Linked DNA regions of Homo sapiens. The protein of the gene in region 4 purifies or fractionates together with the protein of the main gene of each other region. This does not show direct contact. Each region holds a gene or a part of one and is shown on either strand. Other genes may lie near its edges. The genes, in order: CHERP, ACTR1A, SNRNP70, SF3A3, SNRPA, U2SURP and SNW1.

Region 1 (3,500 bases), on a different chromosome or scaffold from region 4:
GCGGAAGGGTGGCTCGCGCTGGCCCCCGCCCCAGGGCGGCTGCTCGTGCTGGCTGTTCCAGGGGCCCTCGAACTGGCTGTTCCAGGCGGCGTCGGGCTGGTTGTTCCAGGGCGCGTCGCGCTGGCCGTTCCAGCCGGGGTCACCGCGCTGCTCGCCCCACATGCCCTCATGGCTGTTGTTCCAGGGGGGGCAGTGGGGTGGGCCGCCCTGGTGGTGCGGGTAGGGTGGCTGCTCTGGCGGCTGCAAGGGAAGGGACAGGCTTGAGCCCTGCGTGGTCTAGGCCCTAGTGCTCGGCAGCATCACAGCGCTCGGCAGCATCACAGCGCTGGCTCAGACCATGGAGGCGCTGCCCTGGCCACGTTGAGGCGCCTCCTACGCTGACGCCTGCGAGGATGCTGGGCACCTGCTCTCAGCCCGCACCACATGCTGCTGCAAAATGACCAGACACCCAACCGCTGCACCCGCATCTCAGTCCCGGGGCTGTTTCTGCCGCTGGGGCGCGCTGCACCCGCACACAGGCCGCCCGCGCCACAAGGTGCTCCCCGCTACCACTGCCAGACAAACGCCAGCTCCCTCGCCCCTCAGGGGCAGGTGCAGAGGCACAGACGGTATCGCTTCTCAGGGCACCCCAGGCACCCATGGGGCGGGGCTCACTCTGACACCCCCTGCCCTGCCTCACTCCCCCTCTCCCCAAAAGCCGTCTGCTGGGCAGATACACTGCGGCACACACATCCTTGTCCTGGGGTCTGCTTCTGGGGACTTTCAAACCAAGCCAGCATCTTCCTGTAGACTGAAGACGGGAGGCTCTTCCCTCATCAGCTTCTGCTCTGGAGACTTAAAGCCAGGAGGGCAAACTCCAGCTTGGGCAGGGGAGGGGAGGAGCACAGAGGCCAATGAGAAGGCCGGTGTCTAGGGTCACAGCTGGGTAACTGCGCTGACCCCTACTAAGGGGAGGCTGGCCCAGGCTGCCACATTCACCAGGCTTCCAAGAGAAGCCAGAGAGCCAGATATTAAATATCAGGAACTACTTGTTTTTCTTTTTCTTAATTTGAGACAGTCTCGCTCTGTTGCCCAGGCTGGAGTGCAGTGGCGCGATCTTGGCTCACTGCAACTTCCACCTCCCGGGTTCAGGTGATTCTCCTGCCTCAGCTTCTCGAGTAGCTGGGATTATAGGCGCCTGGCACCATGCCCGGCTATTTTTTTATCTTTAGTAGAGGCGAGGTTTCACCACGTTGGCCAGGCTGGTCTCAAACTCCTGACCTCAAATGATCTGCCCACCTCAGCCTCCCAAAGTGTGGGATTACAGGCGTTAGCCACCACGCCCAGCCTTGCTTTTCTTTTTTAGAGACAAGGTCTCACTCTGTCACCCAGGCTGGAATGCAGTGGCATGACCATAGCTCAATGAAGCCTGAAGTCCTGGCTGAACCAATCTTCCTGCCTCAGACCACTGTGTAGCTGGGACGACAGGTGTGCACCACCATGCCAGCTTATTTTTATTCTTTGTAGAGATGGAGTCTTGCCTTGTTGCCCAGGCTGGTCCCAAACTCCTGGCCTCAAGCAATCTTCCTGCCTTGAGAAATTACTTTTAAACGTGTTAAGACCCCACATGGCCAAGTCAAGCAGGCCAGGCTGCTGTTTCTCAGTGTGGACTGCAGGATGCACTGCTGGCCTAGCGGGCACCCTCAGTGAGGGGCGTGCCCATTGTCCTGAGCCCAACCCTCTGGTCTGCAAAAAGACTGAGCCTGGAGACACTAAGGGCCTGTTTCCACACCTACAAAACAGGGACAAGAACTGCCCCCCCCAGCAGAGGGTACCTGCAAAACAGCCACCACCATCTGGCTCCTGGCCAGCACTTGGAGGTGGGAGCTGTCTTTATGGGGGTGTCCAATCTTTTGTGAGGTTCAATTTCGTGTCCTGAAGCTGGGGATGGGAGGCTCAAAGCCACAACCACCAAGTCTCAGTCCAGAGCCAGTCTCCTTGCCATCCTTACACCTGTCCCTGCAGACAGGGAGTCACCTGGAAAGGCCACGCTGCGAAGCCAACCAGGCCCCACGGGCAAGGGGGAAAGTCACGCCCTGGAAGACCCGGGGCTGTGCCTCAGTGCTGAAAGTGGACCCAGCACGCTGCAGGGCATTTCACAGCCATGCTGTGCCACATAAGGTGGCCCCTGCCTTGGCCCAGGGGTATGTGACCCATAGCAAAGCTGCATCTGAGGCCTCCCAGGGGCAACACGGCTGACATTTCTGACATTCCCCCTTTCCTTACAAAAGCACCTTGTTCTTTCCAGGATGACAAAACACTGACACTCAACTAGCTTAACCTGTTTAAGGAGGACAGGAAACAGAACACCCTGCCGTGCCTTGCAGCGTTAAACTCCCCTGCACTCGCAGGACAATGGTGATCTATACTACAGAGAAGCCCAAACCATCAAAGCTCGGGGAAGGGACGTGAAGACCTGTCACTTGACCTGTCCCGGAGCCACAGGAAGACAGGGCTGTCACTAACCCAGCATAAGCTCTGCCACAGAATATCCCTCATTGTTCCCCAGTAAGCCACTCAACGCCCACCAACTGGCATAGGGGAGGCTACCCCATCAGGCCAAGTGTGCCCCATCTGCTCCCACCCCAGGTTCCAATCAATACCTGCTGCTGGCCCCAAGGAGCCACGGGGTGAGGCTGGTCAAACCAAGGGGGCTTGTTTGGTGGGATCTGGTCGTGTGGCCCGGGGCCCCGGGGGCCGGCAGCTGCAGGATCCTGGACCCCTCCTGGAGCTTCGTACTCTGAAGAGCCAGGCATCTGGATGGGAGGCTTGCTGTCATCTAAATCCAAGTGACAGGCAGTTAGAGCAGGCCTGGCAGCAGGAGGCGCTGTCTCCTCTCCACACTACCCCAGAGCAAACCAGGCTACCGCTTTTAGTGCCCAGTGGATGATCGCTTCAGGACCCACTAAAACCATGACTATCACTGGCTTCCAGGAAGGGGACAGGGCGAGGGGAGGTTTCGACCTTGAACATGACACACATCTGTCCTTTTCAAAGCTTTACAAGAAACAGGCCTCACTTCTGCCTTCTTGGTTTGCTGAAGAATTTCTATCCACACTGAATTTGATTAGACATCTTTACTGTATCTAATTAAAAGGTCATTTCCCCACATCTGTTATTTTCTATTCTATACAATCCTCATATTCCTACAACAAATCTTCTTTGATCAGAATGTAATTTTAAAATCCTTTGCTAGGCCGGGTGCGGTGGCTCACGCCTGTAATCCCAGCACTTTGGGAGGCTGAGGTGGGTGGATCCCAAGGTCAGGAGATCGAGACCATCCTGGCTAACACGGTGAAACCCCGTCTCTACTAAAAATACAAAAAAGTAGCTGGGCATGGTTGCGTGCGCCTGTAGTCCTAGCTACTCAGGAGGCTGAGGTAGGAGAATGGCGTGAACCCAGGAAGCGGAGCTTGCAGTGAGCTGAGATCACGCCACTGCACTCCAGCCTGGGCGACAGA
Region 2 (3,500 bases), on a different chromosome or scaffold from region 4:
ATATATAGAAATTCAATTTCCTGTTTTCATCAGCAATGCAGAAGGAACAACCTGTCTATCCCACCAGCTCCTTTGCTTCTTGAATTGCTAGGCAGGAGTTCCATCTCCGGCCATTTTCTTTAATATCACTTACACTAATGCGTCTTAATTTTTTTCTTTCTCTTTCCTGGTAGTATGTTTCGAAATGCATTACAGCAGTGATGCATTTTTAGTTTCAAGATTTAAAGAATTGACTTGTCTTTTTTTTCCCCCTCTGGGAAAACATGTCCTTTATTATGCCAGTATTTCTGCCAAAAGGTGAAGTAGGAGAAACTTAAGTCATTTTCCTATTAGTATTTGCTGAAAATCTGCCACATTTTTACATGTGCGGTCTCAGGTAGTCCTTGTTGTTTAACATTTGGGGGGTCATTTTGTTTTTATTATTTTCAAGATGGTAGATGTATAGGAAACATTATTTGAAATACCTGAGACAACTTATTACATATAATGAGAATAATGTATCACTAGCTATGTTAACTCCATAGCTTAACATGTTGCTACACTTTATTTATGGGCAGAAGAGTATAATCAAAAGAATGCAGGAGAAAGAAAGCAGGGAAAGAGCCCCATTAAGTTCACAGCCTTTCCCAATCATAAGACAATTGTGACCACGTCTTTCATCTTACTCTGGCATCAAGTCATTTCATCAGAATTTAATGAGGAAAATGGAGGGGCAGGTAGGTGTGTGCTTTAATGACAACAATAAAGTGATAGGTATTTTTTTAATCACCCAAGAAGCTTTATGATGATAGATATTTTTTAAAACCAAATATAAGTCATTTCTTCCCAAAGACATAGAGAATAGTGTAAGATAGGAGCAGCTCCTAGGCCACATTTTGAGGACTACACTTTGATCAGAATACTATGTTTATTCTGAAACTCAAATTTTTCCTAAGATCCAGGCCAAATGTGGTGGCTTACTCCTGTAATTCCAGCATTTTGGAAAGCCAAGGCTGGAAGATCGTTTGAGCCCAGGAATTGGAGACCAGCCTGGGCAACATAGTGAGACTTCATCTCTACTTTAAAAAAAAAAAAAAATTAGCCAGGCTTGCTTGGTGGCATGCACCTGTAGGAGGCTGAGATGGGAGAATCACTTGAGCCCAGGAGTTTGAGGCTGCAGTGAGATCGTGCACCTCACTCCAGCCTATTTAAAAACAAAAACAAAAAAACTCTAAGTTTACAGTTTTGCCTGAACCTAAAATGGATCAACATTCCTGTCAAACTTAAAACTGTCTTTGTGACTATATGGACCTAAATGCAGGCTCTTCAGAAGTTCAACAATAAGCTAAGCATTTGTTTGTTTTGCTTTGGATGTTGTGCTGCTTCAGCCCCCTTTAAAAAAAAAAAAAGAGAGAGAGAGATACTTTAAACACACAGAAAAATTCGGTGTGGTATATAACAAGCACCCAGGTAGCATGTGTCTACTACCCAGATTTAGTAAATATTGATGTTGCCATATTTGCTTCAGTATTTTTTTTGCTTTAGTGTTCCCATCCACCTTCATGTTTTAAGGAAATAAAACATTACAGATATAATTGAAGACTCTTTGTACCCCTCCACAACCCTATCTTTTTTTTTTTTTTGAGACAAGGTCTCACTCTGTTGCCCAGGTTGGGGCTCATTGGCACAATCAAAGCTCACTGCAGCCTCAGCTTGCCAAGCTTAAGCAATCCTCCCACCTCAGCCTCCCAAGTAGCTGGGACTACAGCCGTGTACCACCTGCTCAGCCTTTTTTTTTTTTTTTGTAGAAATGGGGTCTCCCTGTGTTCCCCAGGCTGATCTAGAACTCCTGGGCTGAAGCAGTCCTCCCACCTCAGCTTCCCAAAGTGCTGGTATTACAGGCATGAGCCACTGTGCCTGGCAACCCTATCCTTTCTCTCTGTTTTACAAATAATCCGCAAAACAACCATCATCATAAAATTGTCCTCCTTTTATACTCTGGAAGATAAGTCAGGAGAATTGTGTTGTTCAAGGCCAGCCTGGGCAATACAGCAAGACCCCCATCTCTTTAAAAAAAAAAATTGTGCTCCTTTCCACCTATGATTTTTTTTAATTTTTAATTATTATTTGTTTTTAAATTTTTTTTAGAGATGAGGTCTCACTCTATCACCCAGATTAGAGTGCAGTGCTGCAGTCGTAGCTCACTGCAGCCTCAAACTCCTGAGCTCGAGCAAACCTCCTGCCTCAGCCTCCCAAGTAGCTGGGAGTATAGGAGGAGCAAGCCACCATGCCTAGATCCATCCATGATTTTATGTGCATATGCATTTTAAGTTTGGCAGGGGAGTGTGCTGTTTGTGTTTTGAAAGTTTACTTAAGTGCTATCATCCTACTGTTATCTCTTTTTATTATAGCAATTTCAAACATACAAAGGAGAAGGAATAGTGTAAGGAACATCCATACGTTCACCTAGCTGTAACAGTTATCAAACTCTTGGCCAATCTTTTCAACTACATTCCTGCCCATTTCCCTCTCCCACATTCTTTTTTTTTTTTTTTTTTTTTTCCTGAGATGGAGTCTGCTGTGTGGCCCAGGCTGGAGTGCAGTGATGCTCACTGCAACCTCCACCTCCGTGGCTCAAGCGATTCTCCTGCTTCAGCCTCCCGAGTAGTTGGGACTACAGGCATGCACCACCATGCCCAGCTAATTTTTGTATTTTTAGTAGAGACGGGGTTTTGCCATGTTGGCCAGGCTGGTCTCGAACTTCTGGCCTCAAAGGATCCACCCGCCTCAGCCTCCCAATGTGCTAGGATTATAGGCGTGAGCCACCACGCCCAGCCCCACACTCATTTAAAAACATAATCAATATACTATTATCATGCCTAATCAAATCAACAAGAACCCCTTAATCTTATCAGTTATCTAGTCAATGTTCAGATTTCACTAATTGTCTAAAAAAATTTTTCTTTTACAATTTGTTATCAGCTTTTCTGATCCTACTAATGCTGATTCACTTAAGTTTTTAGGGACACTAGAATTAGCTGAGGAAATGAAGTCAATGTATTTATCTAACACTGTCACTTGCAGTGTGATATTCAGGCTGTTGGTTGTACAGCTTCAGCAAGAATCCATCCCTAGCTTGACAGAAAAGGTGAAGAAGAGGTGACTTATAAAGATATTTTCACTGTTCAATTATGTATATTTTGCAAGCCAAGGATGTGCTTCACACTGAGCTAAGTCCTCTGAGGGTAAAAAAGAAATCAGATACCATGTGGAAGAAGAAACGTCACCAATTAGTGGCTGCAAATGCCTAGAATAGGGATTTCAAATTCAATGCCTGCAGAGGCCAAGCAGGAATGGAAATATACTCAAAAGAGAAGAGAGAGAATAGCCTGAAAGGCACCTCTTCCAGGCTGGGAAATCTGAAAGGTGCATTGAATTGAGCATGCCTGACCAAAATGTTAACTGATTCTCCTTTCTATCCAATTGTCCCCATGCAGGAATACCGGCCTAGTGTTGCCAGA
Region 3 (4,156 bases), on a different chromosome or scaffold from region 4:
TTTCTCCATGTTGATCAGTCTGGTCTCGAACTATTGACCTCAGGTGATCTGCCCGCCTTGGCCTCCCAAAGTGCTGGGATTACAGGCGTGAGCACTGCACTCGGCCTTTTTCTTGAAACATAAAATTAGTCATTTTAATTTGCAATAATTTCTGTAGTTATTAAACAGGCTATTGAATCCATCCACAAAACTTAAGATACAATACTTAAGAACAGGGCTCTAAATAACAAGTGCCAGCTCTCTGATCTCATGGCCAACAACCTGAGATTCCTGCCATCTGGTCTCAGTTCAGGACCTTTGCACTTACTGTTAAACACCGCCCCCCCGGCCCCACCCCAGATCTCGCTTCTATCTGTCCTTTATTCAAATGTTACCTCTTCAGAGGGGCCTTCCATTATCACCCTTTCTAAAACAGCCTCGCTCTCACTTCCCATCCCTTTATTCTGCTCCATCGTTCTTCATTATGCTGGCCACTATCTCAAATTATCTTTTATTATTTATTTATTTATTTACTTTTGAGACGGAGTCGCTCTGTCGCCCAGGCTGGAGTGCAATGGCACGACCTCGGCTCACTGCAACCTCCGCCTCCCGAGTTCAAGCGATTCTCCCGCCTCAGCCTCCAGAGTAACCGGGCTTACAGGCGCGCACGGCCACGCCCGGCTAATTTTTGTATTTTTAGTAGAGACGGGCTTTCACCATGTTGGTCAGGTTGGTCTCACACTCCTGACCTCAGGTGATCTGCCCGCCTCAGCCTCCCAAAAGTTCTGGGATTACAGGCGTGATCCACCGCGCCTGGCCTCAAATTATCTTTATTCAGTTAAATGCTTTTATTGTCTCTCCCAGTACAATGTAAGCCCTAGCAGCAGAAGACTTTGCTTTAATCACGTGCTGTACCCCCAAAGCCCAGACAGTGCCTAGCACACACGAGATGCTCGATGAATAGTTATTGATTGAATAGATTAGACATCAACGCAATCAGGCTGTTCACCTAGGGACTCTTTGCTAGGCGGCGGAGAGGTACGTTACAGTTCTCTACGCAAAACGCATGCGCGAAAGATCCGGGAAGTGTGATCGGAAAGGGGCGGAGCATCAGGGAGAGTCTCGCGGACATAGGCGGTTCGGCGCGGAAAGCGGGAGGTGGAGGGGCGGCTTGGGGCAAGCGCGCGCGCGCAGTGCAGAAGCCAGCCCCCCGCGGCTGAGGTACTCAAGGTGCCCAAAGGCGGGGTAGTGACCTCGCGCGTGCGCTGTGCCCGCGGCAGCGCCGGGTCCTAGTGTGTGGGTTGTTGTTGGCACCGCACGGCGCGTGCGCAGTGAGGACGGCGGAGGGATTTGCGGCCGGGACCCACCCCCTGCTCCAGTCGCTATCGGAGGCCGCGCGGGTGGCTGAGCAGCGGCCTGGTGCGCTCGCTTAGCGGGCGACGGAATCAGACGGACGTGGACGCCCCCGGAGTGGAAGCCGAAGCAGGAGTTGTTGTTGCTGAGGGGCTGCCGCAGCCGCCGCGAGCCTCCGGACAGACGCCAGAGCGAGGAGGGCGCTACGCGGTGAGTGAGTGTGACTGAGTGGCCCGACGGGGTGCGGGGCCGCTACCCAGAAGCCCCAGCGGTGGGCCCGGTCCTCTTCCCCGCGGCCAGGCCCCTTTCCCGCGTCCCCGCCACAGGTCCCTTCTGCATCCCTTTCCCGGACCCCGAAATCTCTGGGCACCCACGCCCGCTTCCCACAGCGCCCTCGTGGTTCCCTACCCACAGGCCCTTGCGGTGTGTGGCCTTTTTTCTTTTTCGTTTGTCTATGTTGTCCTGGACCCTTACCCATAATTCCTTTCGCTTTTTGCGGGGTCCAGGTCTGTTACCCACAAGCACTTGGTTTTGGGGCTTCGCTCCTTATGTTTCTCTTTCTTTGCTTGGAAACTTCCGATCCCCAGGACCCTGCAAACTGCATCTCGTAATTTGCCCTCCACGGCACGGGACGAGCAGCCACAGCTGCTCTGGGCCTCCCTCCTCGGGTCCTTGATTTCCCCAGAAATTCCCAGGGAACCTCTCCGCCCCACAGCTCGTGTCAGAGGACTCTGAGACTTCACTCTTCAGGAACCCTTTTCCAGCCGTTATTTTTGTTTTCTTTACCGGCCTTTCACCTCCACCCCCACCAAGACGTACCCTTTTCTCCGCAACACAGGACTGTTCTCTGCCCTTACAGAGCCTGTTTTAATTCCGAGACTTTTCTCCTGTCTTTCTTATTTTGAGAGTCAAGGAGTAACAGGGGCTTTCTCTGTGCAGACCCGATCTAACCTAAGGCTGTCCTGCTTCTGCTCTCAGACTTGGCAAGATGACCCAGTTCCTGCCGCCCAACCTTCTGGCCCTCTTTGCCCCCCGTGACCCTATTCCATACCTGCCACCCCTGGAGAAACTGCCACATGAAAAACACCACAATCAACCTTATTGTGGCATTGCGCCGTACATTCGAGAGTTTGAGGTGAGTTCACTGAGCAGGCCAGGAATGGTTTGGGTTCTGGGGAGCAACGGGTTGGATTTGCGAGTCCAGCTTCTGGCCATTTTGCCAGCTGCGTGATTTAAGCGAGGGGCTTAACCTTTGTGATCCTCAGTTTCTCTGTTTTAAATGGGGTTGGAGCCGGGTGTCGGGTGTGGTCGAGTGCGTCTGTAGTCTCAGCTACTCAGGAGGCTGAGGTGGGAGGATTGCTTGAGCCCAGGAGTCGGAGGCTGGAGTGCTTTGTGATTGTGCCACTATACTCCGGCCTGGGTGACAGAGCAGGACTTCGTCTCTCAAAAAAAAAATTTTTTTTTTAAGTGGGGTTGTGGCCCGGTACGGTGGCTCACGCCTGTAATCCCAGTACTTTGGGAGACCGAGGCAGGCGGATCACTTGAGGTGAGGAGTTGAAGACCAGCCTGGCCAACATGGTGAAACCACGTCTCTGCTAAAAATAACAAAAATTAGCCGGACATGGTGCCTGTAATTCCAGCTACTTGGGAGGCTGAGGCACGGGAATCACTTGAACCCAGGAGGCGGAGGTTGCAATGAGCCGAGATCGCGCCACTGCACTCCATCCTGAGCAACAGAACAAGACTGTCTCAAAAAAAAAAAAAAAAAAAAAGTGGGGTTGATAGTACACCTTTTGTAGAATTTTTGTGAAAATTCAGTGAGTAGTGGTTGAGGATTCATGCCTAACCCACACCATTTATCAGCTCTGACTTTGGGCAAATGTTGTATCCTCTTAATGCATTGGTTTCTTTATCTTTAGCAAGGGGATAGTGGTAGCACCCTTATAATGTTGGTGGAGAATTAAATGGCAAACTGTATGTCAGGGGGCTTGGCACCAAGCAGTCAGCACATGTCAGCCTTTGTTACTCTGTTTACTACTTTTATTGTTAATAAGATGATGTTCATAAAGGCTTAGCACCCAGTATTGAGTATTGGAGGGCTTAAAACTGCAGATGGGGATCTTAGCTCTGCACCTTTGGGATAAATAGGAATGAATGACTTAGGCTCCTGGACCTCTGTGTTTTTATTTGTGAAATGGGATGACAAGGGTCATCTCTTAGGTGCATCAGAGCACACCTGAGAAAAGCTGGCACACAGTCGGAAGTTACAAGAAGAACGTTCTAGCATTGGGTAGGTAAGGGCAGCTGGAGGCGAGGGAGTTGCAGAGCAGAATTTCGTAGATAACAGAAAGGTATGTCTTCAGTGGGATTTGCCACCCTTGGTGAACCCGCACTTGAGAGATATTACTGGCCAATTAACTTAATGGGCACAGGCGGGTGGTAGGTGCCCTTTGATGATGCAGGTCATGTGCCAGTTACCATTTATTTATTTATGAGACAGTTTTGCTCTGTTGCCCAGGCTGGAGTGCAGTGGCGTGATTTTAGCCAACTGCAGCCTCCGGTTCAAGCAGTTCTCCTGCCTCAGCCTCTCAAGTAGCTGGGATTACAGGCATGCACCACCACGCCTGGCTAATTTTGTATTTTTAGTAGAGATGGGGTTTCACCATGTAGGCCAGGCTGGTTTCGAACCCCTAACCTCAGGTGATCCACCCCCCTTGGCCTCCCAGAGTGCTGGGATTACAGGTGTGAGCCACCATGCCTGGGAGCCAGGTACTTTTTTTTTTTTTTTTTTTTTGACTTGGAGTCTCGCTCTGTTGCCTAGGCT
Region 4 (3,500 bases):
GCTACAGTGAGCCAAGATCGCGCCACTGCACTCCAGCCTGGGTGACAAAGTGAGACCCTGTCTCAAAAAAAAAAAAAAAAAAAAAAGATTTATTTTGGCAAAGGTAAAATATGCTTGCTGTATTGATAATGGACTGGGTACAATGGCTCATGCCTGTATCCCAACACTGTGGGAGGCCGAGACAGGAGGATCATTTGAGGTCAGGAGTTTGTGACCAGCCTGGGCAACACTGCAAGACCCCATCTTTACAAAAAAAGACAAAAATTAGCCAAGTGTGGTGGTGGTATGCACCTGTAGCCTCAAATACTCAGAAGGCTAAGGCAGGAGATCACTTGAGCCCAGAAGTCGAGGTTGCAGTGAGCAAAGATCATACCACTGCACTCCAGACTGGGCAACATGGTAAGACCTCATCTCAAAATAAAAAAAAAAGTATTAATAAATAAATATGCTTCTTGTTTTCACTGTAGAAAACTTTCATTTTGAATAGTATTTCATTCCAAGAGAGCATATCACCTCTTTAATATTTACATAAGAGTTTTAAAACACAAGGAAGACACTTTACAATGGCTTCATGTCTGCTAGTTCCAGCCTACTGTCCTGACTCACTTCGAGAATCAGAACCTCTCTGCCCTTTCCCAGGCCTTACCTCAGATGCCTTCAGGTTAATGTACTTGAGGTAACAGTCATGGAGATCGAGATAACGACCATATCCCTCTTCATCTGTGAACTCCACCAAGTCTGAGGGAATCAGATACATCAATGATTCAGTTTCTACAGACCACTCTCTTGGACTTACCTTTTCAAATGGACTGTGTGTTCCTAGTTTCCTGAGGCAGCACTTCACCCAAATGTCTTCCCTTTGCTCACAATATAACCTCCAATAAGTTAAGTGAGATCAAAAGTGAGTTTTCTCTTACAAGGTAACAAGGACTGACTCATTTTAGTATTGTGAACTAAAGTGAACAATCCTTGGCTTTCCAAGCCAGTAAATTTGAGGTAGGAGAGAACAAAATGAACATTTTGCCCAAGACCAACTTAGGATGTCACTCTAGCCCAGAAACCAGCAAAGACAAAACCAGCAAGAAATCCTGGCTATAAATATCTCTGAGGCCATGGCTGCAAATCTGAGCTGTCATTAACCTGTATTTTTGCTGGTGCTGAATGAAATTTTCACCCCTACTTACTTTGTGCCTCTTCACTTGGATTCTCTCGAGCCTTCAGGAGTTCCTCAAATTCCACTGACATTGGCACACAGATCTGAGGGGAAAAGTAAAAGCTCAGGTGGATTTTTCTTTTTGCTTTTGAGATGGATTCTCACTCTGTGGCCCAGGCTGGAGTGCACTGGCACAATCTTGGCTCACTGCAACCTCTACCTCCCGGGTTCAAGCGATTGTCCTGCCTCGGCCACCCGAGTAGCTGGGATTATAGGCACACACCACCACGCTTGGCTAATTCTTGTATTTTTAGTAGAGACAGGGTTTTGCCATGTTGCCCAGGCTGGTCTCAAACTCCTAAGCTCAAGTGATCTGCCCACCTTGGCCTCCCAAAGTGCTGGGATTACAGGCATGAGCCACTGTGCCTGACCGCAGGCGGATTTTTCAATGTAAAAGTTGCAAGATCACAGAAATGAAATACACAGAAAGTTGGACTTCTGATGATTTATTTGGCCTTGATTTTTCACTAGGAAATCTACTACTGTTCTCCAATTACCTTGTTTTTCCCCGCTTTTTTGTACTGTTTGAGTAAAACCCACTAAAGTAACACATGCTCACAAAAACTCAAAAGTCCACCTTTATTAATTCTCCTGAGAACAGGTGACCACTGTTAACAGAGCTTTTGCTATGCCAGTGGTTCCCAAACTTTGCTGCACATTAGAATCACCTGGGGGAGTTTTTTTTTTAAATCCTGATGCACCTGATACCAATTAAATCAAAGGAGGGCAGGTATCAGTACTTTTTAAAGATCCCCAGGTGGCTCAAATATGCACAAAGTTTGGAAAACAGTGCTCTATGTATTTAAATATATGTATTTGTACAAGTACATTCATGCCTGCATAGGTTTTTGTTTTTGTTTTTTTAACATAAAAGACTTGCGTCTGACATTTAGTATATCTTGGGCATCCTTCTAATCAGTTATTTAAGCATTTATTCCTCATTACCTTTTGACCATGGCTGGAATAAGGTTAACACATCAGAATGGTATTCATTTATTCTCCCTTGGTTAGCAGAAGACCTCATTCTCTATCCTCCAAGGGGGCTATGTGTGTGAGGGTCCCTTCATTTACCTCCGCGCTATGTATTGCAATAAACAGCCTCTATTTTTTGCTGTTTTTAGTCTCTTCCTTTTTCCCTGTGCTCCTTCAAATAAGTATGCTTCTCTGTCTTCCCCAATACCCTCCTGTTTCTCCCCTTCTTTTTCCTACCAGACTTTTTTTTTTTTTTTTTTTGACGGAGTCTTGCTCTGTTGCCCAGGCTGGAGTGCAGTGGCGTGATCTCAGCTCACTGCAACCTCCATGTCCTGGGTTCAAGCGATTCTCCTGTCTCAGCCTCATGAGAAGCTGGGATCACAGGCGTGCACCACCATGCCCGGCTAATTTTTGTGTTTTTAGTAGAGAGAGGTTTCACCATTTTGGCCAGGCTGGTCTCCAACTCCTGACCTCAGATGATCGACCCGCCTCGGCCTCCCAAAGTGCTGGGATTACAGGCGTGAGTCACTGCACCTGGCTACCAGCCTTTCAAATGCATGTTCCATACTCCATACTTCTACTTCCCCATTACCCATCTTTACCTTGTGACCAGATTTCCATTCATACTACTTTAATGAAGCAGCAATCCTGGCAGATATAAATCAATAACAGTTGACACCATGACTGCCTTTCTGAAACTCTCTTTTGCTTAACTTCAGTAAGGCAACACCACCTGGAGTGGTCATGTGACCTTTCTGATGGAAGCCTTCCCAGGCCCTTTTTCTCTTTACCTTATTATAAGTGAGCTCCAGGGCATATGAGGGCCGGGCGCGGTGGCTCATGCCTGTAATCCCAGCACTTTGGGAGGCCGAGGTGGGCGGATCACAAGGTCAGGAGATAGAGACTATCCTGGCTAACATGGTGAAACCCTGTCTCAACTAAAAAATACATAAAATTAGCCAGGCGTGGTGGCAGGCACCTGTAGTCCCAGCTACTCAGGAGGCTGAGGAAGGAGAATGGCATGAACTCGGGAGGTGGAGCTTGCAGTGAGCCGAGATCATGCCACTGCACTCCAGCCTGGGCAACAGAGCGAGACTCCATCTCAAAAAAAAAAAAAAAAAAAAAGACAGAGTTAGGAACACAATTTATTGGGGAGAGTAATTTCTGTGAAAGATAAAAAGGAAGAGAAAGTAGGATTAGGACAGGATAGCCTAGACCACAATGCAGATTGGACAAAATCTTGACCAACCCAACGGGGAGCCATGGAGCAAAGATTATTCATCAGAGGAGTCTCAGAGTGGACCAAATTGCTGGG
Region 5 (2,344 bases), on a different chromosome or scaffold from region 4:
TCAGGGCTCTTGTGCTCACCGACTCCCCTATACCCCCGCAGCTTTCTGAGAATCCACCGAATCACATCTTGTTCCTCACCAACCTGCCAGAGGAGACCAACGAGCTCATGCTGTCCATGCTTTTCAATCAGTAAGTGGGGCCTGTGGCTGGGTGGTCCCTGGAGGGTGATGGCCAGGAGGCATCTCCATGGAAACAGGCCTCAGAACTCTGCCAGCAGAGCTCTGAGCCAAGTAGGGCTTTGCAGAAGGGACAGCGACCAAAGATGTGAAAGGAGGAGGCTGTGGCTGGGCCCACGGCCTGTGGGGGACATGGGGGTGAGGCTGGAAAGGTCTCCATGGCCAGGGCTTGCCGGCTTTTTTCAGCCTTGTTTGAGGGCTGAGGGAGTCCAGGCTCTGGGCCTCATTTTCCCAGCCCCTAAAATGGGGGCATGCAAGGCAAGGTATGTGTAAAACTGCATTGAGATGTCCTTGAACATTGGCTAAGACTGGCAGAAGTCAGCGTGCTCAGAAACAGCAAGTGTGGGAGATGGGGATGCGTGAAACTCTTGTGCCTGGCGTCAGGGTGGAGGCCGGTGCAGCCGATGTGTAGAGGGGCTGTTCACCATTGTTGAGTGAAGTCGTGGGTGTGGGTGAGTTCATCTGGTGGTTCTGTTTCAGGGGCTGTGAGTGGGGCATTCGTCAGTGTTTGTGGTGGGGAGTTGGAGGGTGTCTGGGAGAAGGGATGGCTACATGCAGCATCTCACCATGCTGCACTGCGTGGCACTTAGAAGAACAGAAAGCGCAACTTTATAATAGTGCCGAGAGAAGATTGTGAGAACCTGAAAAATACAGAAAAACAATACCACATGTGCAGCCTGTCCACAAAGCTGTATATTTTGTGAGAATGCCGATGGAAAAAAGGATACCTAGTAAACATGAGGATGGCTGCTTAATGGAGAAAGAAGTATGGAATGAGAAGAGGGAAATTAGAGAAACAGCATATCAGAAAAGTGAGGGTAAGGCCGGGTGCGGTGGCTCACGCCTAAAATCCCAGTATGTTGGGAGGCTGAGGCAGGTGGATCACTTGAGGTCAGGAGTTCGAGGCCAATGTGGGCAACTTGGTGAAACCCCTTCTCTCCTAAAAATACAAGAATAAAAATGGAAAAAGTGAGGGTATTGGTTATTTTTTTGGTGTGGCGGGTGGGTTATGATTTAGGAAGGGCCCAGGAGACTGCGGTGTACTGTTTCTTGATTTAGGTTGCAGTTGCATGGGTGTTTGTGTTTAAATTTTTCATTAAATGCTATGTTTACATTAGAGTTTTTCAACTTAGTACTATCTGCATTTTGGGCTGGATAATTCTGAGTAATGGGGCCCTGCCCTGTGCATTGGAGGCTATTTGGCATCATTTCTGGCCTCTGTCCACTTGATGCCGTTACGTTAGGGGGAAATGCTGAGTCCCTGAGGTCTGTCGTTCTCTTTCAGGTTCCCTGGCTTCAAGGAGGTCCGTCTGGTACCCGGGCGGCATGACATCGCCTTCGTGGAGTTTGACAATGAGGTACAGGCAGGGGCAGCTCGCGATGCCCTGCAGGGCTTTAAGATCACGCAGAACAACGCCATGAAGATCTCCTTTGCCAAGAAGTAGCACCTTTTCCCCCCATGCCTGCCCCTTCCCCTGTTCTGGGGCCACCCCTTTCCCCCTTGGCTCAGCCCCCTGAAGGTAAGTCCCCCCTTGGGGGCCTTCTTGGAGCCGTGTGTGAGTGAGTGGTCGCCACACAGCATTGTACCCAGAGTCTGTCCCCAGACATTGCACCTGGCGCTGTTAGGCCGGAATTAAAGTGGCTTTTTGAGGTTTGGTTTTTCACAATCATTTGTCTGTCTGATTTTCTTGCTCTTCATGGTTCCTTTCCCTCCACCTCAGCAGCACATCCTGGGTTTTTGGACCTCTTGGCATTTTGAGGTTTGCAACCTTGGGGAAACATAGGATAGTGTAGTAATATTGTTCAAACTCAGGTTACAATGACTACTTTGGCAGTTTTGTATGTTGTCCCAATTCACAGCAGGAAATGGAATCCTGGGTCAGGAAATGGAAAGTCAGGGCTGCCGCGTACAGTTAGGCAGGATGGGTACTGCACAAGAATGGCACCTTTTAAGGGCACACCATTCACTTTGTAGGCTTACAAGTTTATGCCACCACTTTTCTAACAGATGACAAGAGTGTTCAGGGAGAGGTGTTTCTTCACCTTTTTTTTACTCTTCTCAAAAGTGCAGCCTGTTGTAGCAATGGCCCCAGAGAAACCACAGTAGGTAGTTCAAACAGAAAGGAATTTAATACAGGAAACTTGGTGCTGCTGAAATCATGGGGCG
Region 6 (3,500 bases), on a different chromosome or scaffold from region 4:
GACTTGTAAATATTATTGAAGAAAAGGAAACAGAGGTAGGCAGTCTGTATTTGTCTGGTTGTTTTTAAAATTCGTTTCTGGGGTGGAGGTTTCTTGGAGTTGTTCTGTGTTACATATGTGAGGTACATTTCTTTGTGAAAAATATCTATTGCTTACCATTAAGTAGTGGATTTTTATTGCTGGAACCCAGAAGTCAAAATTACATGTAACAGGAATTCTCTGTCTTGTGTCCTTATGTGAAAATTGGTGAGTGTTTTTTTTATTTAATGATATAAGAGTTATGATATATTGTTAATAGTAGAAAATAAGCAAGTAATAGAGCAATATGTATAGCATGACTTTATTTTGTTAAAGATAGCTATATAAGTAAAATATGTGCATGAAAAGATGCATCACATGATAGCAGATATACATCACCATTCTGTTGTTTTTTTTCTTTTTTACCTCCTAAATAATTACTGAATCCTTAATGTTTAATTCTGCCATGCTAGTCAAGCTATTATGTTTTCACTTTCACTCCTGCAGGATCTTCCTAATTGGCCTTACTGTTGCAACCCACGTGGTCCTTGTTTCAGTTTCTTAAATGTGTGTTTCCACCTACCATTGGACTTTGTACATGTCCTTCCCTCTTTCTGGGACTTATCTTCACCTGAGATCCTTCAGATCTCAGCTCAAACATAACCTTAGCCTTCTCTGACCTCTTTAAGTGAAACTTAGTATGCTAATAGTATGATACGCCCTTTTGCTGTAGCAGTTACCATAGTTACAGATAAGTATATATTGTTGTGATGATCTGATTTCCTGGTTCCCCCACCCCTGCAAAACAACAGCAAAAACCTTTACCAGGCTCTATAACAGGGGGACCAAACTTGTTTTTGCTCATCATTGCCTCACAAGGTACCTGGCACCAGTGAGCACTTGGTAAATATTAGATAAATGCACAACTGACTGCTTCTTTAGCAAACTGGATGATAGAATATGTTCTTACATTGTACCTCAGATTGTGGGTATCCAGTTATGTTGGCTTGTACTGGATTACAAATTAATCTTACAAGCAATGTGACTTCAGCAAGCAAAGGAAAATGTTATAATAGTACACATTTCCATAGGATGTTCCAGATGACCTTGATGGTGCCCCCATCGAGGAAGAGCTTGATGGTGCACCTCTGGAAGATGTAGATGGAATTCCTATTGATGCTACTCCCATCGATGATCTTGATGGAGTCCCTATAAAAAGTCTTGATGATGATCTTGATGGAGTGCCTTGTAAGTTCAGATTTCAAACTGATTAAATCTAGCTAATACATTTGGTGACCAAAACTCTAATTTCCATACATGCTGATATGGAAAAAGGTTATAGTTTCTCATGAACGTATCAAGTTATTAACTTTTCTATTTCTGATTTTTTTCAAAATTCATATACCCAGTAATACATTTATTTGTATGCTATGTATATAAAAGGCCAAGAAGAAGCATTTTTTTCTGGTCACATTTCTTTGCTGGGACAATCAGCCTCCTATAATATTAGCAAGTTTCTCTTTTTGTCTTGTCAGGAAATTATAGGCAAAATCTTGTGCTCAGTTATGCATGATCCTAGGTACCTGGTTTTATCAGTTTTTATTAGTTTTTCTAACTTACAACTTCAGTTTTCCTAGCTGCCTAAAATCATTTTGAAAATAGGAACTGTAGACAGCTCTTTGGTACATTTGAATTATATGTTTAAATATTGAATAATGTATGCAGTTTTATATTTCAGAGATTAGGTAAAGATATTAAAGATTTGTTTTACTTCTCAACTTCTTCACTTGCTTAATATATTACTAACCTGTATTTTCTGAATTGATATATATACTGTTAAAAATATTGCCCTCAGATGCAGAGAATTGGTTTAGTCATAGTCCTTGTTCTTAGTATTACTATTTGTCCATCTGTGTCCTTATTTTACTTTGCTTTTTAATAATATGGTGAATACCCATGAATGTAATACTTCGGGTCATCCACTAGTAGTCAGGGTTAATGGCTTATCTTTCCCTAATAGTGGATGCAACTGAAGACTCAAAAAAGAATGAGCCTATATTTAAAGTTGCCCCATCAAAATGGGAAGCTGTGGATGAATCTGAATTGGAAGCACAGGGTGAGTAAAAGTAAAATAAATATTTTTTAAATTAAGTACTTGTACGTTAATTATTGGTGTGCTTGTATATATGTTTTCCTTTTATGTTTTATAACACGTTTTAACCTTAATGCTCAATGTTGTCATATTTTGTGTCTAATGTATGCTTTTATTGTGGTTGGTGTTGCTGTTACAATTTTCTTAGGTCCTTCAGTTTGGAAGCTTTGAGAGTAATGAGATATCACTGAAAACCTTTCAGGTTAAGGCATTTTAGTAGCAAATGTAGATTGGAAGCTGTACCTACGTAGAAATCTACATAGAGGTCAGTTTCATAGAAACCAAGCTTTGACCCTCCCATAATGCTAGACTGATTAGATGCAATTTAGACCTGTCTTTCACACTTACTTAGACCTGTATCCTAGTGCTAATAATCTAATTGTTGCTATTTGTAGGTTCTAATGAAATAAATCTTAATATTCAACACAGAAATAAGGATGACATTATTCGTCACTTCATGAATTTGAATTATATTGTAGGTGTGAGGAAAGAGATTTGGCATATAGAAATAACTATTTAGAGAATTGATAAACATAGATTAAAAAAACTTCTGTAATATAAACTTTTCAATTCTAAAGCTTGAGCTTCCACTGTACTACTGAAAAAATGCTAGTTTACCTCGTGGAATTACATCCTCCTTTTCCTTTCATTCAGCTGTTACAACTTCTAAATGGGAATTATTTGACCAGCATGAAGAATCAGAAGAAGAAGAAAATCAAAAGTAAGAATCTAAGTTTTGAATATACTGTTTCTTGTTCATATACACTCCCCTTTTCATTAAGAGATATAGTTGAAATAATAGTGAAGTGGAAAACTTCACTCTTAAAAAATTTTGGGAGAGGATCATTTTTAGTTCTCCATTGGTTTTCCAGTGAATAAAGAGCTTTTGTTTTCTGGTCTTGATGGATCTGGTTTCATTTTGCTTTTGAGTTTTTTACGCTAGGTTATATTCTCACTTTGTAGTTACTAATTGGTCAACTGCATTTTTTTCAAACCTTTGCCATCAAATACTGTTTTGGGCTCCATAAAAAGTGGTTTTTAAAATGTGAATAGGAAAGGTTATACTCCTTTCTTTTGGATTGTACATTCTAAGAAAAAGATTGCATTATGGCCATTGTGTTATTTAAATATAAACCTTTCAGAAGAACTAAGAATGAATACAAAGGAAAAAATCTTTTCTTTTGAAATATAGAGAAATAATAATTTTGATTTTGCTGTTTGGTAATCACCCCAAAATTGTTTTTGTATTTGACACTGTGTGGTTGTAGGAATCTCTCCTCTCAGATTCTCCTGCAAGTCTGTATTGGCAGTTTTTAGGAAGTTCTTGACA
Region 7 (3,500 bases), on a different chromosome or scaffold from region 4:
TTTTTCTTTTTTTTTTTTTTTGAGATGGAGTCTCACTCTGTCACCCAGGCTGAAATGCAGTGGCACGATCTTGGCTCACTGCAACCTCCCAAAGTGATGGGATTACAGGCATGAGCGACTACACCCGGCCAGATCGTTGCTTTTGTCTGTAATGCAGCCACTAGAAACAAACCCCAAACTGGGACCACTCTCAGGTTTATATCTTTTTGTTTGTTTGTTTTCTAGAAGTGGATAGATTCATGCATGAAGTTTGGAATGCATTGAGTAATTCAACATTAATCAAGTAACTATTATGTGCCATTGGCACTGGGGGAGCACTTTGATTGTTTAGGACCATCTTCAGCATTGTACAATGTTTAGCATAAGTGGCACTACCTATAAATCCCAGTAGCGTCCCCATCCTACCCCCATTGTCTTAACTAGAAACACCTCACACATTTACAAAGGCACTGGGAGAGAGGAGTTAGAGGTGGCAGTGATGCCCTGTTTGACAATCACTGATTTTCCTGTTTTAGAAGAAATAGAAATGGACTGCATAATATATAAAATAGGATTTAAAAAATTTGTTATTCCAGAGACTGAACAGGTTATTGGATTTATGAATTTGGACTAAGATTTCTGATTTGCTTCCGAGAGGTCTGGTATTCTTCAGAAACGAGGGAGTTCTCACTGAAATATTAATAGTGAATGAGTAAGAATGGAAAATACTAGGTGTTAGGTATAAGAGGTGAGAAGAATCAGTGAGGATTCTAAGACGTAATATTCTAGGACAAGTCTAAGGCAATTCTCTACATGTGAAGTAAGTACTGTGTATACGACTTATTAGTCATACAAAATTGGGGATGAAAAAGTTTTTTTTAGTGTAAATCTTGATACAACCAAATGCTTTTTTTTTCCTAATTATGAAAGTGATAAATCTTTTTTTTTTTTTGAAACGGAGTTTTGCTCTTGTTGCCCAGGCTGGGGTGCAATGGCACGATCTCAGCTCACCGCAACCTCTGCCTCCCGGGTTCAAGTGATTCTCCTGCCTCAGCCTCCTGAGTAGCTGGGATTACAGGCATGTGCCACCACGCCTGACTAATTTTGTATTTTTGGTAGAGACAGTGTTTCTCCGTGTTGGTCAGGCTAGTCTCCAACTCCCAACCTCAGGTGATCCACCCACCTCGGCCTCCTAAAGTGCTGGGATTACAGGCATGAGCCACCACACCCAGCCAAGTGATAAATCTTGAAATAAAGGGCTTGGTGTATGTATTTTTCCCTCTGAAATAGTTATGTAAGAAATACTACATACAGGCCAAGTGCATTGGCTCATGCCTGTAATCCCAGCACTTTGGGAAGGTTGAGGTGGGAGGATCATTTGAGGCCAGGAGTTTGAGACTAGCCTGGGCAATATAATGAAACCCTATCTCTTAAAGAAACGAAATGTTACACACGTACTATACCCAAAAGAATGCCTTCAACGTATTACCCCTAAAAAACCGTAACAACTTTAAACTGACCCCATGATAAATTATATGTTATCTTGTTTGTATGATTTCACACACTAGCTAAGCTAGATTAGCGTTTTCTTTCTACCTCACATAGTGAATGTTTTGACAGGCTTATCCTTTTAGTCAGTCTAGTTCTTTGCCAGTTTTCTGTAATAAAATATCTGTTTCACAGATGAGTTACTACTTTATCTTGTTGACAAAGCTTATTTGTGCTTCTGATACTTTCAAGAGTATATTGTATTTTTCAGAAAACGCTCCCCAGCCCATTTGCCTCCTGGTACTCAGTTTCCTCAGCACATTTAATTCTCAGACTATAAAAATTTGGGGTTTTGGCCAGGTGCTGTGGCTCACGCCTGTAATCCCAGCACTTTGGGAGGCCGAGGCGGGTGGATCGCCTGAGGTCAGGAGATCGAGACCAGCCTGGCCAACATGGTGAAACCCCATCTCTAATAAAAATACAAAAATTAGCTGGACGTGGTGTCATGCGCCTGTAATCCCAGCAACTTGGGAGGGAGGCTGAGGCAGGAGAATGGTTTTAACCCGGGAGGCGGAGGTTGCTATGAGCTGAGATCACGCCATTGCACTCCAGCTTGGGCAACAAGAGCAAGACTTCGTCTCAAAAAAAAAAAAATGGGGGGTTTTATAATTAATTACTATGGAGGAATCTTGCTCTTCAGATGTCCTTCACTCAGCCTTGTGAGATACTAGAATCTTATTGATGCTCATTTGAAGGGTTATTAACTTTGGAATGCCCAAATAAGGAGCAGCAAATGACTCTTGTATGCTAAATTAGTATTGACACTTTATGTTGAACATACATGACTACCAGGGAGCCATTTACTTAGAATCCTTTCCTTATAACCGTTGCTATGGAGAAGTGATAAACTCCTCATGATTAACTCTTCATAGAATTGGTATTTTTTTCTTGTGTTGTTATATAATTTTCAGCTTAGGGTTGTATAGGTTTTTCCATGCTGAGAGGAAATAAGACTTTTGAGGTCAGATAGTAGCTGTATGATCTTAATGTACTGAACCTCACTCTTTTCAGTAGAGTGAGCTTTATGGTCCCTTCCAAAATCAACACTCTTAGAGTATGGTGACACTAATAACTCACATATCAGTAGTACGTGTTTTGTGCTAAATCATCTTAGGCTTTCTTACCTGATCCCTCTTCTCACTCCTGAGAAAAACAAGCTGGAGATTTTAGTGTATAGCCATGAGATAGTTTTTTCTGGGAAATCAGTAGCTTATAGAAAGTTCTGTACGGCCTAAAATATAAACTTATTTATTTATTCATTCATCCATCCATTCTTTAAAATAGAGATAGGTCTTGCCATGTTGCCCTGGCTGGTCTCGAATTCCTGGGCTCAAGCTATCCTCCAACCTTGGCCTTCCAAAATGCTGTGATTACAGGCGTGAGTCACTGTTCATGGCCTATAAACACCTTTAGCATGTAACAGAATATCTCTAAAATTCATTTATTTATTCATTTGTACAAAAAATATTGATCAAATATCTCCAGTCATTATTATAAAGCACAGGAGACACTTTTTTTTTTTTTTTTTTTTTTGGAGACAGTTTCACTCTTGTTGCTCAGGCTGGAGTGCAATGGCATGATCTCGGCTCACTGTCACCTCCGTCTCCTGGGTTCAAGCGATTCTCCTGCCTCAGCGTCTCATGTAGCTGAGATTACAGGCACCCACCACCATGCCTGGTTAATTTTTCTGTTTTTGGGAGAGACGGGGTTTCACCATGTTGGTCAGGCTGGTCTTGAAATCCTGACCTCAGGTGATCCACCCACCTCGGCCTCCCAAAGTGCTGGGATTACAGGCGTGAGCCACCGTGCCCTCCCCGTTTTTATTGTTTTAATACGGGAGACAGATAATAACCATGTAAAGTAGATAATTTCATGCTGTGAACAGTCTTGATCACAGTAAACAGTGCTATGGAGCAAATGATTGGGTGGGGAGGGGTTACTACTAAGGCAATCAGAAGAAGCCTCGATAATGG

What was found.
Region 1: the proteins of SF3A3 (region 4) and CHERP purify together in Homo sapiens (affinity purification with mass spectrometry; 2 studies listed by BioGRID, with this or other methods). This does not show direct contact.
Region 2: the proteins of SF3A3 (region 4) and ACTR1A fractionate together in Homo sapiens (co-fractionation; one large-scale study listed by BioGRID). This does not show direct contact.
Region 3: the proteins of SF3A3 (region 4) and SNRNP70 fractionate together in Homo sapiens (co-fractionation; 3 studies listed by BioGRID). This does not show direct contact.
Region 5: the proteins of SF3A3 (region 4) and SNRPA fractionate together in Homo sapiens (co-fractionation; 4 studies listed by BioGRID and IntAct, with this or other methods). This does not show direct contact.
Region 6: the proteins of SF3A3 (region 4) and U2SURP purify together in Homo sapiens (affinity purification with mass spectrometry; 2 studies listed by BioGRID, with this or other methods). This does not show direct contact.
Region 7: the proteins of SF3A3 (region 4) and SNW1 purify together in Homo sapiens (affinity purification with mass spectrometry; 2 studies listed by BioGRID and IntAct, with this or other methods). This does not show direct contact.

Annotation. Positions count from the first base shown.
Region 1 is NC_000019.10:16,525,438-16,528,937, forward strand, and holds part of CHERP (calcium homeostasis endoplasmic reticulum protein), read right to left. Parts: intron 2,819-3,500; coding exon 2,643-2,818; intron 241-2,642; coding exon 1-240. UniProt on the Homo sapiens protein: Involved in calcium homeostasis, growth and proliferation.
Region 2 is NC_000010.11:102,496,213-102,499,712, reverse strand, and holds part of ACTR1A (alpha-centractin), read left to right. Parts: intron 1-3,500. UniProt on the Homo sapiens protein: Part of the ACTR1A/ACTB filament around which the dynactin complex is built. The dynactin multiprotein complex activates the molecular motor dynein for ultra-processive transport along microtubules.
Region 3 is NC_000019.10:49,084,095-49,088,250, forward strand, and holds the start of SNRNP70 (U1 small nuclear ribonucleoprotein 70 kDa), read left to right. Parts: upstream 1-1,356; 5' UTR 1,357-1,542; intron 1,543-2,310; 5' UTR 2,311-2,320; coding exon 2,321-2,467; intron 2,468-4,156. UniProt on the Homo sapiens protein: Component of the spliceosomal U1 snRNP, which is essential for recognition of the pre-mRNA 5' splice-site and the subsequent assembly of the spliceosome. SNRNP70 binds to the loop I region of U1-snRNA.
Region 4 is NC_000001.11:37,983,523-37,987,022, forward strand, and holds part of SF3A3 (splicing factor 3A subunit 3), read right to left. Parts: intron 1,258-3,500; coding exon 1,185-1,257; intron 739-1,184; coding exon 647-738; intron 1-646. UniProt on the Homo sapiens protein: Component of the 17S U2 SnRNP complex of the spliceosome, a large ribonucleoprotein complex that removes introns from transcribed pre-mRNAs.
Region 5 is NC_000019.10:40,763,546-40,765,889, forward strand, and holds the end of SNRPA (U1 small nuclear ribonucleoprotein A), read left to right. Parts: intron 1-41; coding exon 42-130; intron 131-1,462; coding exon 1,463-1,622; 3' UTR 1,623-1,844; downstream 1,845-2,344. UniProt on the Homo sapiens protein: Component of the spliceosomal U1 snRNP, which is essential for recognition of the pre-mRNA 5' splice-site and the subsequent assembly of the spliceosome. U1 snRNP is the first snRNP to interact with pre-mRNA.
Region 6 is NC_000003.12:143,036,070-143,039,569, forward strand, and holds part of U2SURP (U2 snRNP-associated SURP motif-containing protein), read left to right. Parts: coding exon 1-35; intron 36-1,109; coding exon 1,110-1,266; intron 1,267-2,038; coding exon 2,039-2,134; intron 2,135-2,824; coding exon 2,825-2,891; intron 2,892-3,500.
Region 7 is NC_000014.9:77,740,657-77,744,156, reverse strand, and holds part of SNW1 (SNW domain-containing protein 1), read left to right. Parts: intron 1-3,500. UniProt on the Homo sapiens protein: Involved in pre-mRNA splicing as component of the spliceosome. As a component of the minor spliceosome, involved in the splicing of U12-type introns in pre-mRNAs.